3 linked regions of the Homo sapiens genome follow. The protein of the gene in region 1 purifies or fractionates together with the protein of each later gene. This does not show direct contact. Each region holds a gene or a part of one and is shown on either strand. Other genes may lie near its edges. The genes, in order: PADI4, GMPPA and MAP1S.

What was found.
Region 2: the proteins of PADI4 (region 1) and GMPPA purify together in Homo sapiens (affinity purification with mass spectrometry; one large-scale study listed by BioGRID and IntAct). This does not show direct contact.
Region 3: the proteins of PADI4 (region 1) and MAP1S purify together in Homo sapiens (affinity purification with mass spectrometry; one large-scale study listed by BioGRID and IntAct). This does not show direct contact.

Annotation. Positions count from the first base shown.
Region 1 is NC_000001.11:17,342,651-17,346,299, forward strand, and holds part of PADI4 (protein-arginine deiminase type-4), read left to right. Parts: intron 1-3,377; coding exon 3,378-3,489; intron 3,490-3,649. UniProt on the Homo sapiens protein: Catalyzes the citrullination/deimination of arginine residues of proteins such as histones, thereby playing a key role in histone code and regulation of stem cell maintenance.
Region 2 is NC_000002.12:219,501,875-219,504,822, reverse strand, and holds part of GMPPA (mannose-1-phosphate guanylyltransferase regulatory subunit alpha), read right to left. Parts: coding exon 2,786-2,948; intron 2,442-2,785; coding exon 2,382-2,441; intron 741-2,381; coding exon 610-740; intron 1-609. UniProt on the Homo sapiens protein: Regulatory subunit of the GMPPA-GMPPB mannose-1-phosphate guanylyltransferase complex; reduces the catalytic activity of GMPPB when part of the complex. Mediates allosteric feedback inhibition of GMPPB catalytic activity upon binding GDP-alpha-D-mannose.
Region 3 is NC_000019.10:17,725,839-17,729,487, forward strand, and holds part of MAP1S (microtubule-associated protein 1S), read left to right. Parts: coding exon 1-2,334; intron 2,335-3,649. UniProt on the Homo sapiens protein: Microtubule-associated protein that mediates aggregation of mitochondria resulting in cell death and genomic destruction (MAGD). Plays a role in anchoring the microtubule organizing center to the centrosomes. Binds to DNA. Plays a role in apoptosis.

The sequences.
Region 1 (3,649 bases):
CACCAGAAACTCCTGGGAACTCATTTAAAATGCACCTTTCTGGGCTGGGCACGGTGGCTCACGCCTGTAATCCTAGCACTTTGGGAGGCTGAGGCAGGTGGATCACTTAAGGTCAGAAGTTTGAGATCAGCCCAGCCAACATGGTGAAACCCTGTCTCTACTAAAAAATACAAAAATTGGCCGGGCGTGGTGGCGCATGCCTGTAATCCAGCTACTCAGGAGGCCGAGGCACGAGAATTGCTTGAACCCTGGAGGCGGAGGTTGCAGTGAGCTGAGATTGCGCCACTGCGCTCCAGCCTGGGCAACACAGTGAGACTCCATCTCAAAAATAAAATAACCAGCCTGGCCAACATGGTGAAACCCCGTCTCTACTAAAAATACAAAAAATTAGCCAGGTGTTGTGGCATGTGCCTGTAATCCCAGCTACTCGGGAGGCTGAGGCAGGAGAATCACTTGAACCCAGGAGGCCAAGGTTGCAGTGAGCCGAGATTGCACCATTGCACTCTAGCCTGGGCGACAGAGCAAGACTCCGTCTTGAGAAAATTAAAAATAATAAAAATTAAAAATTAAATTAAATTAAATTAAATTTAAATTAAATAAAATGCACCTTTCTGGCTGCCTGTGAGCTGCTGGGTCTTATCCCTGAGGACGGGGCCCATCTGCATTTTGGGGAGGCCCAGGCAATCTTCCTGCAGTCTGAGAGCCGCTGACAAGTGTGCTGGGGTCTCAGGAGACCCTCTCCTCCCCTCTTCTGATAGCTTCAGGGGCAGAAGAGTAAGAGGGTAATGTGGTCAGGACGCAGGCTGGAATCCAGTGAGGACTGTATTCCGGTCCCAGCACTGTTCCAGGTGGTGTGACCTTGAACAGTGAACTCATATTCTGTCTTCTCCCAAGTTGATATGGTTTGGCTCTGTGTCTCCACCCAAATCTTATCTTGAATTGTACTCCCACAATTCCCACGTGTTCTGGGAGGGACCTGGTGGGAGATAATTTGAATCATGGAGGTGGTTTGCCCCATACCATTCTCATGGTAGTGAATAAGTCTCATGAGATCTGATGGTTTTATCAGGGGTTTCCACTTTTGCATCTTGCTCATTTTCTCTTGCCGCCGCCATGTAAGAAGTGCCTTTTGCCTCCCACCATGGTGTCCCCAGCCATGTGGGAGTGTAAGTCCAATTAAACCTCTTTTCCTTCCTAGTCTCAGGTATGTTTTTATCAGCAGCGTGAAAATGGACTAATACAGTAAATTGATACCAGTAGAGGGGGGCGTTGCTGAAAAGATACCCAAAATGTGGAAGCAACTTTGGAACTGGGTAACAGACAGAGGTTGGAACGGTTTGGAGGGCTCAGAGGAAGACAGGAAAATGTGGGAAAGTTTGGAACTTTCTAGAGACTTGTTGAATGGCTTTGACAAAAATACTGATAATGATATGAACAATGAAATCCAGACTGAGATGGTCTCAGATGGAGATGAGGAACTTGTTGGGAACCGGAGCAAAGGTGACTCTTGTTATGTTTTAGCAAAGAGACTGGTGGCATTTTGTACCTGCCCTAGAGATTTGTGGAACTTTGAACTTGAGAGAGATGATTTAGGGTATCTGGCAGAAGAAATTTCTAAGCAGCAAGGCATTCAAGAGGTGACTTGGGTGCTGTTAAAGGCATCCAGTTTTAAAAGGGAAGCAGAGCATAAAAGTTCAGAAAAGTTGCAGCCTGACAATGCAATCGAAAAGAAAATCTCATTTTCTGAGGAGAAATTCAAGCCAGCTGCAGAAATTTGCATAAGTAACAAGGAGATTAATGTTAAGCCACAAGGCAATGAGGAAAATGTCTCCAGGGCATGTCAGAGGTCTTCATGGCAGCCCCTCCCGTCACAGGCCCAGAGGCCTAGGAGAAAATGGTTTCGTAGGCCAGGCCCAGGGTCCCCATGCTATGTGCAGCCTAGGGACTTGGTGCCCTGCATCCCAGCTGCTCCAGCCATGGCTAAAAGGGGCCAGTGTAGAGCTCAGGCTGTGGCTTCAGAGGGTGGAAGCCCCAAGCCTTGGCAGCTTCCACATGGTGTTGAGCCTGCAAGTGCACAGAAGTCAAGAATTGGGGTTTGGGAACCTCTGCCTTGATTTCCAAAGATGTGTGGAAACGCCTAGATGCCCAGGCAGAAGTTTGCTGCAGGGGTGGTGTTCTCATGGAAAACCTCTGCTACAGCAGTGCAGAGGGGAAATGTTGGTTTGGAGCCCCCACACAGAGTCCCTACTGGGACACCACGTAGTGGAGTTGTGAGAAGAGGGCCACTGTCCTCCAGACTCCAGAAGGGTAGATCCACTGACAGCTTGCACCGTGTGCCTGGAAAAGCCACAGACACTCAACACCAGCCTGTGAAACTGGCCTACCAGGAGGGAGGCTATACCCTGCAAAGCCACAGGGGCAGAGCTGCCTAAGACCATGGGAACCCACCTCTTGTGTCAGCATGACCTGGATGTGAGACCTGGAGTCAAAGATCATTTTGGAGCTTTAAAATTTGACTGCCCTGCTGGATTTTGGACTTGCATGGGCCCTGTAACCCCCTTGTTTTGGCCAATTTCTCCCATTTGGAATGGTTGTATTTACCCAACACCTGTACCCCCATTGTATCTAGGAAGTAACTAGCTTGCTTTTGATTTTACAGGCTCATAGGAGGAAGGGACTTGCCCTGTCTCAGATGAGATTTTGGATTGTGAACTTTTGGGTTAATGCTGAAATGAGTTAAGACTTTGGGGGACTGTTGGGAAGGCATGATTGGTTTTGAAATGTGAGGATATAGGATTTGGAGGGGCCAGGGGCAGGATGATATGCTTTGGTTCTGTGTCCCCACCCAAATCTCATCTTGACATGTACTCCCATAATTCCCAAGTGTTGTGGGAGGGACCCAGTGGGAGATAATTTGAATCATGGTGGCAGTTTCTCCCATACTGTTCTCATGATAGTGAATAAGTCTCATGAGATCTGATGGTTTTATCAGGTTTTTCTCCTTTTTCTTCTTCCTCATTTTCTCTTGCCACCGCCATGTAAGAAGTGCCTTTTGCCTCCCACCATGGCCTCCCCAGCCATGTGGAACTGTAAGTCCAATTAAACCTCTTTTTCTTCCCAGTCTCAAGTATGTCTTTATCAGCAGCGTGAAAACGGACTAATACACGGGTGGAAGGGGTACCCACTAGTTCCTGCCTCATAACTTGTTAGATGGATTCCATGAGCTAATGCCTGCTAAGAGCAGATGGACCGGACGTGCCAGGAGCCTCTGTTCAGGCCACAGGTGACCCCTGAGCCACCTGTGTGTCCCTCCCAATCCTTCCAGGCTGAGCTTCAAATTCCAGAGCACTAAGGAGCTGCTTTTCTGCTCTCTCTAGTATTTTTGAAAATGAGGACTTCCTGAAGTCAGTGACTACTCTGGCCATGAAAGCCAAGTGCAAGCTGACCATCTGCCCTGAGGAGGAGAACATGGATGACCAGTGGATGCAGGTATGTGCCCTGCGGGGCAGGCAGGGTGACTGTCCCTGAGGGCCAAGAGACACTTGGGGGACCCGGGCTCCTGGGGTTCAGCCTGGTGCCTCACCGGCCACTCTTCCTTAGATGGACAGGGAGATAGGAACCTGAGAGATCCTTGGGCCGGGAGGCTCAA
Region 2 (2,948 bases), on another chromosome or scaffold:
AGGGAGAGAGAGATGGTAGAGATGCCAGCTCAGCAGAGACAGAGACAGAGAGGCCAGGAGAGATGGAGAGGGAAGCAGAGACACGGGTGGGAGTGAGAAATGGCTATGAGCAGAGGAGGCCTTAGATGGGGCGGTGGGGGGTTAAGGCAAGGATCCCTAGAAGGGAACAGCTTCTAGCCCCAGGAGGGAAGACCCTGGGACTGGTGAGCAGGGCTCTGGTGCTATGTTCCAAGGGGAGCCTCAGCCTGAGAGTATGCATGTCTGTCTGTGTGTGCACGTGCACACGTCTGCACCCGAGCATGTGTGCGCCCAACTGTGTGTTGCTGTCTGTTCTGAAAGACGTCTCTGGGACACTCAGGGCTTAGGAGAAATGGACCAGAAGGGGAGTGGGCAGGCAGTGACAGAGGAGGAACTGGGATGGATAAGGAAGAGGGACAGAATGAGGTTAGAAGGGGAGGGACTCAGGAGGCTCTGCTGGAGATGGCAAGTGGAGAAGGGAGAGGGGAGGAGGAAGGTGAGCAAGTTGAGATGGAGCCTGCAGAGACTGGTATGTGTTGGGGTCCGTGACTGGGGGTACTTGGGGTCACAGGGCTATGGGGCCTGCCTCACAATTGCCCATCCTGCTGATTACGCTGGAAGACATCCCGAAGAGGCTTCAAGGCTTCAGGAGAAAAGAGGTAGATGCCGCAGTTGATGATGTCACTGATAAATGTGCTGGGTTTCTCCACATAGTGCAATACCTGAGGACAGAGCAGGCTGGGTTCAGTAGAAGAAGGGACTACCGCCACAGTCCCCTAAGACCCTCTGATTTCTAGGCCCTTCTTGCCTCTCCTCCCTGCTGCCAGGGTGGCCTGGCTAAAATGCAGTGCGCATCCGCATCCTACTGCTGCCTGGCTTTAAACCCTGAGATGACTGCCCTTCACCTGATTCAGCTTCAGATAAATCCAAAGTCCATGGCTTTCCCTGCCTGATCCTCCCCACCACCTACCTCTCAGACGCATTTCCACCCGACTGCATGCCTGTGCCTGGAATGGCCTTTCTCATCTCTTCATCTGGAAAGCCCACCTTTCCAAACCCAGTTGACACTGTCACTCTCTCTGTGCGTCCTCTCTTGCTGGCCCGAGTTAGCTGTTCATGCCTGGGCACTCCTGAACTCTGGCCACGCCTCACCCATGGCATTGTATCATTTGCAAAGGTTGCCTTTTGATTCTGTCACTCCTATTAGACTCACAGTAACCAAGAGGCAGGGACTGCACCCATTTGGCTCTGTTTCTCTCACAGCTACCTGGTGCTGAGCACAAAACTATATGTGTGTAGGTGTGTACATGCATGTGTGTGTGCGTGTTTATATGTATGTTTTATATTAAAGCACGAACAAATAAAAGGAGTATGTGACGCCAGGTATGGTGGTGGCTCATGCCTATAATCCTAGCACTTTGGAAGGCTGAAGTAGGTGGATCACTTGAGCTCCGGAGTTCGAGACCAGCCTGGGCAGTATGACGAAAGCCTGTCTCTACTAAAAATACAAAAATTAGCCTGGCACCTGCCTGTAATCCCAGCTACTCAGGAGGCTGAGGCAGGAGAACGGCATGAACCCAGGAGGCAGAGGCTGCAGTGAGCCAAGATCGCACCACTGCACTCCAGCCTGGGCAACAGAGTGAGACTCTGTCTCAAAAAAAAAAAAAAATCAGCTGGGCATGGTGGCTCATGCCTATAGTCCCAGCTACTTGAGGGGCTGAAGTGGGAGGATGGCTTAAACCTGGGAGGTCGAGGATGCAGTGACCCAAGATCATGCCACTGCACTCCAGCCTGGAAGACAAAGTGAGACTCTGTCTCAAAATAAATAAATAAACACATACATACATAAATAAATAAAGGAGGGAGGGTTATGTGAAAGTCAAGGGGCTTAGGAGAAGGGAGTTTCACAAAACAGGACAGAGCCCTGCTGCCCTGCCTATCATGCTCCTGCTTCTGGTATGTTACTTCCTGCCTCCAGGCCTTTATACCTGCCATTCCCTCTGCCTGTAGTACCTTCCTGTCTCCTTTGTCATCTAGACAAATGGGACTCTGCTCAGACCTTGCTTCCTCCAGGAAGCCCTCTCTACTCCCACCCCAGCAAGGCTGGGTTGGGGCCCCCTTGGTGTTCCCATCATGCACTGTGCATACATTTATTACAGCACCACCCCCAGGGAAATTAACCATTCCCCCCCTCCCCCTGGTCAATCTCTCTTAAAGGGATATAAGATGATTAATCGGGAGTGTCTCACCTGTCTGACAAGACTAGAGCCCACCCCATACTGTGCCAGCATTCTCTAGAGGCCTGAGGTAGAGGGGATGATGACACAGAGTAGGCACCCACCCAGCCCCCACTCTGCTCTCACCTCGTGTGTCTGTGGATTCTCAACGATGCAGCCGTAGTTGAGGGATTGCGTCCTGTTAGCCTGAAAGACAGACACACCCGAGACAGTGACCCGCCTGCTCCAGGGCAGCCACGTCTGTTTTTTCTTTCTTTCCCTCCGCTACAGCACCTGGCATGCAGCTCTGCCACTGACAGGCCTTCAGCAAGGGTGGAAACTGACAGCTGCCCTCCCCCTCCCTACTTCTGAACAGCCAGAGGGCTCGGGGTCTCCACTAACACCTCCATGCTGCCAGAGCAGCGCATCTCCCTCCTGACGCCAGCTCCCACACCAACTCCCGGGGCGCCCCTGCCTCCCCAACACCCTGAATTCCGGGAAGCTCTTGGGATCACCTCCTCTACACCCTCCAGCCCTCCTGACCCCCTCACCGTAGTGCCAAGGAGTAAGAAAGGGTGACGCTGGCGTCGGTGGGCTTCCAACATAGCACTCAAGGGGAAGTCGGAGCAGACATCAGCATTGAGCACGAAGAATGCCTCGGGGCTCCCAGCCAGGATCTGGTCTCGAAAATGGTAAAGACCACCCCCTGTGCCT
Region 3 (3,649 bases), on another chromosome or scaffold:
TCCTGGCCACCACGCCCCCACCTGTGCAGCCGCCCATACTCACCATCACCTGCCCCACCTTCGGTGACTGGGCTCAGCTGGCACCCGCTGTGCCTGGCCTTCAGGGGGCGCTCCGGCTCCAGCTGCGGCTGAACCCCCCGGCGCAGCTGCCCAACTCTGAGGGCCTGTGCGAATTCCTGGAGTACGTGGCTGAGTCTCTGGAGCCACCGTCCCCCTTCGAGCTGCTGGAGCCCCCGACCTCCGGGGGCTTCCTCAGGCTGGGCCGGCCCTGCTGCTACATCTTCCCTGGAGGCCTCGGGGATGCCGCCTTCTTCGCCGTCAATGGCTTCACTGTGCTGGTCAACGGTGGCTCAAACCCCAAGTCCAGTTTCTGGAAGCTGGTGCGGCACCTGGACCGCGTGGATGCCGTGCTGGTGACCCACCCTGGCGCCGACAGCCTCCCCGGCCTCAACAGCCTGCTGCGGCGCAAACTGGCGGAGCGCTCCGAGGTGGCTGCTGGTGGGGGCTCCTGGGACGACAGGCTGCGCAGGCTCATCTCCCCCAACCTGGGGGTCGTGTTCTTCAACGCCTGCGAGGCCGCGTCGCGGCTGGCGCGCGGCGAGGATGAGGCGGAGCTGGCGCTGAGCCTCCTGGCGCAGCTGGGCATCACGCCTCTGCCACTCAGCCGCGGCCCCGTGCCAGCCAAACCCACCGTGCTCTTCGAGAAGATGGGCGTGGGCCGGCTGGACATGTATGTGCTGCACCCGCCCTCCGCCGGCGCCGAGCGCACGCTGGCCTCTGTGTGCGCCCTGCTGGTGTGGCACCCCGCCGGCCCCGGCGAGAAGGTGGTGCGCGTGCTGTTCCCCGGTTGCACCCCGCCCGCCTGCCTCCTGGACGGCCTGGTCCGCCTGCAGCACTTGAGGTTCCTGCGAGAGCCCGTGGTGACGCCCCAGGACCTGGAGGGGCCGGGGCGAGCCGAGAGCAAAGAGAGCGTGGGCTCCCGGGACAGCTCGAAGAGAGAGGGCCTCCTGGCCACCCACCCTAGACCTGGCCAGGAGCGCCCTGGGGTGGCCCGCAAGGAGCCAGCACGGGCTGAGGCCCCACGCAAGACTGAGAAAGAAGCCAAGACCCCCCGGGAGTTGAAGAAAGACCCCAAACCGAGTGTCTCCCGGACCCAGCCGCGGGAGGTGCGCCGGGCAGCCTCTTCTGTGCCCAACCTCAAGAAGACGAATGCCCAGGCGGCACCCAAGCCCCGCAAAGCGCCCAGCACGTCCCACTCTGGCTTCCCGCCGGTGGCAAATGGACCCCGCAGCCCGCCCAGCCTCCGATGTGGAGAAGCCAGCCCCCCCAGTGCAGCCTGCGGCTCTCCGGCCTCCCAGCTGGTGGCCACGCCCAGCCTGGAGCTGGGGCCGATCCCAGCCGGGGAGGAGAAGGCACTGGAGCTGCCTTTGGCCGCCAGCTCAATCCCAAGGCCACGCACACCCTCCCCTGAGTCCCACCGGAGCCCCGCAGAGGGCAGCGAGCGGCTGTCGCTGAGCCCACTGCGGGGCGGGGAGGCCGGGCCAGACGCCTCACCCACAGTGACCACACCCACGGTGACCACGCCCTCACTACCCGCAGAGGTGGGCTCCCCGCACTCGACCGAGGTGGACGAGTCCCTGTCGGTGTCCTTTGAGCAGGTGCTGCCGCCATCCGCCCCCACCAGTGAGGCTGGGCTGAGCCTCCCGCTGCGTGGCCCCCGGGCGCGGCGCTCGGCTTCCCCACACGATGTGGACCTGTGCCTGGTGTCACCCTGTGAATTTGAGCATCGCAAGGCGGTGCCAATGGCACCGGCACCTGCGTCCCCCGGCAGCTCGAATGACAGCAGTGCCCGGTCACAGGAACGGGCAGGTGGGCTGGGGGCCGAGGAGACGCCACCCACATCGGTCAGCGAGTCCCTGCCCACCCTGTCTGACTCGGATCCCGTGCCCCTGGCCCCCGGTGCGGCAGACTCAGACGAAGACACAGAGGGCTTTGGAGTCCCTCGCCACGACCCTTTGCCTGACCCCCTCAAGGTCCCCCCACCACTGCCTGACCCATCCAGCATCTGCATGGTGGACCCCGAGATGCTGCCCCCCAAGACAGCACGGCAAACGGAGAACGTCAGCCGCACCCGGAAGCCCCTGGCCCGCCCCAACTCACGCGCTGCCGCCCCCAAAGCCACTCCAGTGGCTGCTGCCAAAACCAAGGGGCTTGCTGGTGGGGACCGTGCCAGCCGACCACTCAGTGCCCGGAGTGAGCCCAGTGAGAAGGGAGGCCGGGCACCCCTGTCCAGAAAGTCCTCAACCCCCAAGACTGCCACTCGAGGCCCGTCGGGTGAGTACTGGAGCTGGGGCCCTGGGCTGGGTTAGCAGCTGCTTAGGCTGGAGAGCATAGCTCGTCCCCCTGTTTTTACATTTTCAGTTTTTTTAAAAGAGATGGTCTCACTCTGTCTCTGAGCTGGAGTGCAGTGGTGTGGTCACAGCTCATTGCAGCCTTGAACAATGGGGCTCAAGCCACCCTCCCACCTCAGCCTCTCCAGTAGCTGGGACTACTGGCACCGCCACTACCCCTGCCTAATTTTAAAGTTTTTGGTAGAGATAGGGTCTTACTATGTTGCCTGGGCTGATTTCAAACTCCTGGCCTCAAGCTGTGTGCCCACCTCAGCCTCCCAAAGTGTTGGGATGACTGGCGTGAGCCACGGTGCCCTGCCAGTTCTGTTCTTTTTTTTTTTTTTGAGACAGAATTTCGTTCTTGTTGCCCAGGCAAGAATGCAATGGCACGATCTTGGCTGACTGCAACCTCTGACTCCCGGGTTCAAACAATTCTCCTGTCTCAGCCTCCCGAGTAGGTGGGATTACAGGTGCCTGCCACCACGCCTGGCTAATTTTTGTATTTTTAGTAGAGTTGGGGTTTCACCATGTTGGCCAGGCTGGTCTCGAACTCCGGACCTCAGGTGATCTGCCCACCTTGGCCTCCCAAAGTGCTGGGATTACAGGCATGAGCCACTGCACCCAGCCAAGTCCTCCTGTTCGTAATTACTTCGTGACCTCAGCCGTGCCCACCTCTCCGGGGCTCAGTTTCTCCTGTGAAATGGAAACTGACCTCAGTGTTGAAGCACTTGCCATTCTGAGGTGCCTGGACAGGTGAGCACGTATGCCAACTGTGGGTTTCTAGAAGCCACAATAAGTAAAATGAAACAGTTGAAAATTTAAATAGCGTATTTTATGTAACTGATTGGTTAGGAGGACCCGGCCTATGGTTGCACTCATAGCAGAGCAAAATCAGCAAAGAGAAAAGGCACATAGGGTGAAGTCCAAAGGAAACCAGGCAGAAGCTTCCAGAATCCTCTCCCAGTGGGGCTGCACACCACAGGCTTCATTTCTCCAGTAGCAAGTTGTAACAGTGTGTCCCTCATGGAAGCTCATTAGACACAGCATGCCCAGGTTTCCTATTGGGCCATTACATAGGCATCTTCTGCCTGGCACCCACACTCTAGACTCCCCAAAAAGGAGAAATCAGGTGTGTGGTCCAGTCCAGGCACAGGGAGCCCCTCTCAGACAGGGAATGGTGGGAACCCTCTGCCTAAGATCCAAATTCCCAGAGACCAGCCAAAGGCTCACATTTTAAGCAGGCCTTGCTGAGAGGAGGG